2 linked regions of the Homo sapiens genome follow. The protein of the gene in region 1 interacts with the protein of each later gene in a biochemical or structural test. Each region holds a gene or a part of one and is shown on either strand. Other genes may lie near its edges. The genes, in order: KCNH2 and PASK.

Region 1 (3,904 bases):
CCGGAACCCAGATGTGTTGATGCACCTGATGCCAAATGCTACACCAAGGAGGAGCTTGTGCTGTGGAAGGCCCTGGGCCCCCGGGGGGGTGAGTGAGGAAACTGCTGGCAGTGGAGAGGGCCTGAGGAATAACTGCACAGGCAAGAGCCTCTGGACTTTTTTAGCATCAGCTGTGGAGCCACCTCCTTCTCTCCCACTGGCTGCCTCCCTGAGTCACTGCCCACCCACCAGCAAATAAAAAAGAGTGTCATCTGCTGGCCAGTGGCCCCATTTGGCCCCAGTGTTTGCATCTTTGTGCTCCTGGGTGGAAGGTGAGAGTCCGGGTAGGGTGGTCTCACGACGACAGTTTTCTGCGCCTTCCTCCTTCGGGACTCCGATTCCTTCCCTGCCCTTTGTTCTTCCCCTCCCCCCATGATGGTTCTCGCTGGTGACAAGACCCAGCCCCTGCTCCAAGGACAGAGGCAGCTGCAAGCCCTCAGGAGCCCCCACATGGCCCCATCCATCTAGACAGGTCTCTGATCCGGCTGCAGGGAGGGGACCCTCGGCTGTTCAGCTGCGACTCCTCCCTCCCCGCCCGCCCACTCAGCTGTCAACACTCGCCTCCCCGCCCTGGCCTTCCCGGGGCCCTGCCTGACTGCTAAGTCCGAGGACACCGCGCCCGGAGACCCTCACTCAGACGCAAGCAGGCGATGAGCAGGCGGCGGGGCAGACACCCCGCCTGCCCTTGAGCATCCCTAGGCCTCCTTGCCTAAATAAGGGAGCCGCAGCTGGAGCGAGCCAGCTGGCCGGGGGGAGGGGCCTGCGGCTAGGCCAGGGCTTTCCGAGGGGCTGGGCCGTGGCCGCCGCCGCAGGGCCCCGAGCCCGCCGATTGGGCGTGCAAGGCTGGCCCCGGGCTGCCGGGGGAGGGCGGGCCGCTCGCACCCGGGGATCCCCTGGTTGGAACCTCGCGCTCAGGGACCTCTCTTTGATCCTGCAGCTAGGAGGCCGCAACTGCTGTCAGAATGTCCCTCTCTGTGCAGCTCCTATGCAGAGCCCCACAGAGGGCTCTCTCTCTCTCCGTGTGTGTGTGTGTATGTGTGTGTGTGTGTGTGTGTGTGTGTGTGTGTGTATGTGTGTGTGTGTGTGTGTGTGTGTGTGTGTGTGTGTGTTGGGGCAGGGGGCGTGCCCCTTCTAAGTTTAACCCTCCCTTATTTCAGAGCTCTGCTGCTCTGGGGCCTTCAGATTGTCTTGCTTTTCCTATTTCCAGGGTCTCCCTTGACTCCGGGCTCGTCTTCGAGGGTCCAGGCGTTGCCCCGGTCACCCACAGTAGGCACTGAGCGCGTGCTGTGTATACCAAGCCAGTGCTCGGCGTGGTGGGGAACCAGGGCATAAGGACCCGCCGTTTCCCTTCAAATCAGGTTTCTTAGTCGCTAATCTGGGGTGGGGGTGGAATCCCTTCCCCCATCCCGGCCGCCTACAAGCCGGCCATGGCACCTGTCCTCACGGTTTCCCCTGCCTAAGGGTCCCTTCCCCCTCTTCTGGGCGCGCGAGTCCCAGGGGCTCCTTGGCAGAGCGAGGGGCTGGCGTTGGGGGAGCACTCGGCGCGGCTCAGCCAATGGGAAGGTCGGGCGCGCGCGGTGGGGCGGGATGGGGGGGGGAGAGGGCGGTGCTGCGGGCGCGCGGCAGGCGGGAGGGGGCCGGGAGGCGGGGGCCGGAGCCGGAGGGGCGCGCGCCGCATTAACCCTTCCGCGGCCGGGCCGAGCCGCAGGCGCTGCCCGAGCCGCGGGCGCTGGAGCGGCTGTCGGCGCGGTGGCAGGCGGGAGCCAGGAGTCCGGGGCTCGGGCGGGCGGAGCGCAGCGCGGGGACGCGGCGGAGCGGGCCCCGCGGCTCGGCGGGGGCCGGCAGACAGGTGTGCCGGCGGCGGGCGGCTCGCGCTCAGGCGGCTCCAGGCCGGGCCCGGGGTCCGGAGCGGGGAGCCGGGAGCCGAGCGAGGACCCGGCGCCCGCAGTCCAGTCTTGGCCGCGCCCGTGCTCGGCTTGGCCGCGGGGTGCGGGGACCACGGCCCGGCCGGGCCACCCGAAGCCTAGTGCTGGGCCGGGCCGGGCCGGGGTGGGTGGGGGCCCGCCCGGCCCGCCCATGGGCTCAGGATGCCGGTGCGGAGGGGCCACGTCGCGCCGCAGAACACCTTCCTGGACACCATCATCCGCAAGTTTGAGGGCCAGAGTGAGTGGGGGAGGGGGCTGAGCGGGGAGGGGGCTCTGGGGGCGGGCCGAGCTCTTCCGAGTGTGGATGGGGGGGCGTGCCCGGGCCGTGTGCGTCGGCAAGTGCGAGTCAATGGGGCCTGGTGGGCCCCAGGCTTTGGCGAGGGGACGGCGGGGGCAAGGCTTGGTGCACCGGGGCCGTGGGCACCGGGCCAAAGGGTTTGGGGTTGGGGCTTGGGGCGGGAAACTCAGCTCAGGCTTTTGGGATCGGAGTGTGTGTGACACGCTGAGTGTGCAGGGAAGGGATGTGGGATGGAGTGTGCAGGTGTCCCCAACTCTGGGTGCGTGGACGTGGATGGGGCTGTGTGCAAGGGCATAAGAGTGTGTACGACCCAAACCCTGGGATCCCGAGAGTCCAGCGCGCACACTGGTCTTGCCAGATCTTGACTGTGTTGTGCCGGAGGGACTGAAAAGCCGTGGATGCAGGGTCAGCTCATAATCTCTTCTTGTGTGTGCCGTGTGTATATAACCCTGAGCCCATGTGTCACCCGTGAGTTAGACCCTGTATGGGCGGTGGGGAGGTGTCTTTGACAAGGCTGCGAGCTTGTGGGCTCTGTGGAGACAGGGTGTCCTGGGGCTAGAGCTGGGCTTTGAGGGTAAGCAGCTCCCTGTGGTACCCCCAAGTTGTGGGTTTTCTTGCCCTGGAGACTGTCACCTAATTCCCTTATGGGGACCGGGAGTACAGCACCCCTAATGCCTGCCTGGTAGGGAGGCTTCTAGAAGGGTCCCAGATTAGGCAAATGTCCTGGGGGTGGGCAGCATTCATGTGCCTGTCCCTAAGGCTGCATGAGCCACAGTGGGTGTGACTGCCAAGGGCCCTGGGAGTTGGGAGAGGATGACATTCCTTGTCCATGACCCTGTGAGCACAGGACAACGCGTGCTTGTAACGGTGGTTGGGGGAAGGAGGGGTCAGTCCGATGGTCAGTATTGTGTGAAGCGGAGGAACAAGATGATCCTGAGGGGGTGGAGACAATGACACTGGTTGAGGGCCTCCCTGAGAGGTGGGGGTGGGCCCAGGGGGAGGCTGTGGGCGGGCCTACGAGGAGGCTGGGATGGATGTGGGGGGGGGTGCTGGATTCTAGCCCTACCTTTGCCACTGACTGCCATGTGACCTTGAGTGACTCTTCCCTCTTTGGGTCTCAGGTTCCAGGTCTGTGGAGGAGGGGCAGGCTTTCTGTCCCATCCCTGTATTCCAGGATCTCAGTGAAGGGTGTGTGGTGGGGTGGGGCATGCCTTCGAAGAAACTTGCTCTTCTTTCCCCAGCCTGGGAGAGAGGACAAGGGGTGGTTTTTCTTCTATGAAGCTGGGGTGTGTGGCTGGGCCTCTGGACTGCCTTGGACTGTGGCAGAGCTGGAGGCCGAGTTAGGGGGTCTTTTCAGGTGACAGGAAACCCTGACTCCTGGAATTGATGGCTGCCTGGGAGGTCTGGGGGGCCTTGGGAACTGGCCAAAAGATGAACCAGTTCCAAAAGGCAACTTTCTGGGGGCCAGGGGAAGGGAGAATCGAGAAAGGTGGGAGGAGGCCAAGTCCTGATGGCCTGGGCCTATCTCAGGGTGCCCTGCTGCAGCCCAGCTTTGCACGTAGGATTGCCTAGGGCTGCAACCTGAGGGCTATGCTTGCTGGGGAGGGGAGGGGAAGGGAGGGGGAGAATTCCAACTGCTACT
Region 2 (3,804 bases), on another chromosome or scaffold:
GAACTACTTATTTAGATTATTTCATGACAAAGGAATCCTCCTGCTGATTGTCTTCCGTAACTTGATTTTTTCCACTCGTATATGGCTAAGATTCACCCTTGTGTGTAGTTTATTTGTTTTCACTGCTGTAATTAGTGGTATGAATATACCAGAATTTAAAATCTATCTTCTTGTTAAAGAGTGTTTGGGTTTCATTTCCTTTTTTCCTCCCTCTCTCCCGCACTCCCTCCCTTTCTTCCCTCCCTTTTTTCTGCCTGTCTCTTTGCCATTGAGAACCATATTGTCCCGAACATTCTGGTGTCTTCTTATCTGTTTGCAAAAATTTCTCTGAAATATAAATCTAAGTGAAAAGTGCTGTATCCATATAGACAAATGTTTCACTTGAATTGTTTTCTAAAGAGATTATATTAATGTATTAAGAGTTCCTGTTGATCCAAATCCTTTTTGACATTGGGTATTACTAGATTCTTCATTTCTGCTGACTTAGTAGGTATAACATCATCATGATTAGGATTTCCTCTCCTGTAAAACGCTTGTTCCTATTTCTTGACATTTTTTATTGGGCCATGTGTCTTTTAAAAATGTTTAAATTTTAAATAGTTGATCTTTTAAAGCTATTCTGGATATTAATTTTCTGTTGGTTATGTATGTGGCAAATATCTTCTCCCAAATTGTGGCTTGTTCTTTCGTTTTCTTTATGGTATTCTTTGTGAAGCTGTGTTCTCATTTTTTTTTTTCTTTTTTTTGGGGGGGACGGAGTCTCGCTGTGTCGCCAGGCTGGAGTGCAGTGGCGTGATCTCAGCTCATTGCAACCTCCACCTGCCAGGTTGTGTCGCCAGGCTGGAGGGCAGTGGTGTCATCTCGGCTCATTACAACCTCCACCTCCCAGGTTCAAGCGATTCTCCTGCCTCTGCCTCCAGAGTAGCTGGGAATACAGGTGTGTGCCACCATGCTCAGCTAATTTTTTTTTTTTTAGTAGAGATGGGGTTTCACCACATTGGTCAGGATGGTCTTGATCTCTTGACCTCGTGATCTGCTTGCCTCGGCCTCCCAAAGTGCTGGGATTACAGGTGTGATGTGTTCTCAATTTTAACGTTAAACTTATTAATCTTATTTTATAGCTAGAGTTTTTTGTGCCTTGTTTAAGAAAACTTTCCCTACCCCAAAGTCTTACAGATAGCCTCTTTTCTCCTAAAAACTTAGTGATTTTATTTTATATTTTATTTGGTTTGACAGGTCTCGCTTTGTTGCCTAGGCTGGCCTCCATCTCCCTGGGCTCAAGCAATTATCCTGCCTTAGCTTCTAGAGTGGCTCGGACTATAGGTGCAGGCCACGAGACCTGCCTGGCTAAAAAGTTTAGTGTTTTGACTTCCACAGATCAGATCTTTTATGCCCTGGGCACCATAGTGAGACCTCATCTCCTAGTTAAAAAAAAAGATGGCCATGTGAAGATACATACAAACAGGGAGAAGTCGGCCGGGCGCGGTGGCTCACGCCTGTAATCCCAGCAGTTTGGGAGGCCGCAGCAGGTGGATCACGAGGTCAGGAGATCGAGACCATCTTGGCTAACACGGTGAAACCCTGACTCTACTAAAAATACCAAAAATTAGCCAGGCGTGGTGGCGGCTGCCTGTAGTCCCAGCTACTCGGGAGGCTGAGGCAGGAGAATGGCGTGAACCCGGGAGGCGGAGGTTGCAGTGAGCCGAAGTCGCGCCACTGCACTCCACCCTGGGCGACACAGCGAGACTCTGTCTCAAAAAAAAGAAACAAACAAACAGGGAGAAGCTCTGTGATGGCGAAGGCGGAGACTGGAGTGACGCAGCTGCAGGTCAAGAACACCAAAGATGGCCAGTATGGCCAGTAGCCACCAGATGCTAGGATAAGGCAAGGAGGGGGGACTCCTTGGAGTTCCATATTGGAAGAGGTGGTGTTGGGAGGGCCACCTCCCCTTTCCTCTTCACCCCAGGCCTGCCTTGTCTTGGAAGGGCCTCGTGTGGGCATCCTGCTAGCTTGTCCAAGCTCGCTATTCCTGGAAGGCTGCTCCTCAGCCAGTTCACGGCTATAGGTGTGCCAGTGTGGGAGGACCTGGGTGGAAAGAGGCCTGTGTGTGTCTTAGAAGTGGGCACCAGACCCTTTGGCTGGGAACTCTGGGGTTCTGGATACCCAGAAGGTGGTCCAGAAGAGGGTATATGGGGTGTGGTTGGGCTTGCCTTGGCCCCAGGGTCTCCTCATTTCGTGGGGGAAACTCCAGCCATGGTTCTGGTATTGGCCACAGCCTCCTCTTGCTGTTTATCTAAAGCCTGGATGACCAGGTGGGGGCTTCCTGCCAGTAGAGGAAATCTTCTTGCTTTAAGGGCTCTTTTTGTTGAGTTTGGCCATGAGGACAGGGTATTGGTAAATGTGTACTTGTGTTTCAAGTGCTTGCCAATATGCAGGATGGAACTCTTAAGTATCTCCACTCTGCAGGGTGGTCACATGAATGTATACATGTGACAAGACTGCATGGAACACGTGCTCACATGCGCGCACACACACACGCTCATGTACACATGTGCACACGCACACACACGCACGGACACACACGCACACCCACACACACACACACCTGCAGGTAAATGCCTTGAAATCTGGACGAGGCTGATGGATGGTATCAAGTCAGTTTCCTGGCTGTGACACTCTCCTGTAAGATGTCACCATGAGAGGGAACTCGGAAGAGTATGTGAGATTTTCCTGTATTTCCACCCTGTATCAGCATTTGAATCATGTATAAGAGAAAAGCTAAAAATACAAATCTCTGGTGCCAGGCCTGTCTCTAGGAGACATGGCCTCTTGGCCATGGCCCCCGCGACCTCACTTGTTGGCAGCACCCAGGTGATTCTGTGCACAGCTGGTCGGATGGTCAGGACTCACTGTTTAGGGGAAAGCTGAGACCATGGGAGCTGTGCAGCCCCCACGTGCTGATGGGTTCATCATGACCTGGGAGTATTTTCAGTTGGTGTGTACCTGCAGTCCCTGCCTTCCCTCATGGCTCCTTCCCACCCTGTTCTTTGTTTTCCTCTCTCTCTCCTTCCCTCTTTCCCATATCTTCCTATGTATTTTTCTTGGAAAGAGCTTCTTTTTTTTTTTCTTTTTTTTTGACATGGAGTCTCTCTCTATCGCCCAGGCTGGAGTGCAGTGGTGTGATCTCGGCTCACTGCAAGCTCTGCCTCCCGGGTTCACACCATTCTTCTGCCTCAGCCTCCCGAGTAGCTGGGACTACAGGCACCCGCCACCATGCCCGGCTAATTTTTTGTATTTTTAGTGGAGACGGAGTTTCACAGTGTTAGTCAGGATGGTCTCGATCTCCTCGATCTCCTGACCTCGTGATCCGCCCTCCTCAGCCTCCCAAAGTGCTGGGATGACAGGCGTGCGCCACCGTGCCTGGCCCGGAAAGAGCTTCTTTTAGCACCACTTTGGGTGGACCATTCTCCCATTGCGGGTTCTGACCCAGGATGGCGGTTGGTGGTGTATGTCTTTTGGGGCCGAGCTGAACTCAGCATTATAAATTAGTTGGTTAAACTGTCTTTGTGTTTTTGCATTGCAGATGTTAATCAGCTTCATGTTGTTTTCTAGTTGTTAGAGTTGGAAGCTTGGCAGTTGGCCTCCCTTCTTCCCATGGAGGACGGGGGCTTAACAGCCTTTGAAGAGGACCAGAGATGCCTTTCCCAGAGCCTCCCCTTGCCAGTGTCAGCAGAGGGCCCAGCTGCACAGACCACTGCTGAGCCCAGCAGGTCGTTTTCCTCAGCCCACAGACACCTGAGCAGA

Evidence for each region.
Region 2: of the proteins of KCNH2 (region 1) and PASK, one has a biochemical effect on the other in vitro, tested with the Homo sapiens proteins (one study listed by IntAct).

The regions. Positions count from the first base shown.
Region 1 is NC_000007.14:150,976,136-150,980,039, reverse strand, and holds the start of KCNH2 (voltage-gated inwardly rectifying potassium channel KCNH2), read left to right. Parts: upstream 1-1,718; 5' UTR 1,719-2,126; coding exon 2,127-2,202; intron 2,203-2,684; exon of another isoform or gene 2,685-3,195; intron 3,196-3,281; exon of another isoform or gene 3,282-3,296; coding exon of another isoform or gene 3,297-3,450; exon of another isoform or gene 3,451-3,504; intron 3,505-3,904.
Region 2 is NC_000002.12:241,142,883-241,146,686, reverse strand, and holds part of PASK (PAS domain-containing serine/threonine-protein kinase), read left to right. Parts: intron 1-3,612; coding exon of another isoform or gene 3,613-3,654; coding exon 3,655-3,804. UniProt on the Homo sapiens protein: Serine/threonine-protein kinase involved in energy homeostasis and protein translation. Phosphorylates EEF1A1, GYS1, PDX1 and RPS6.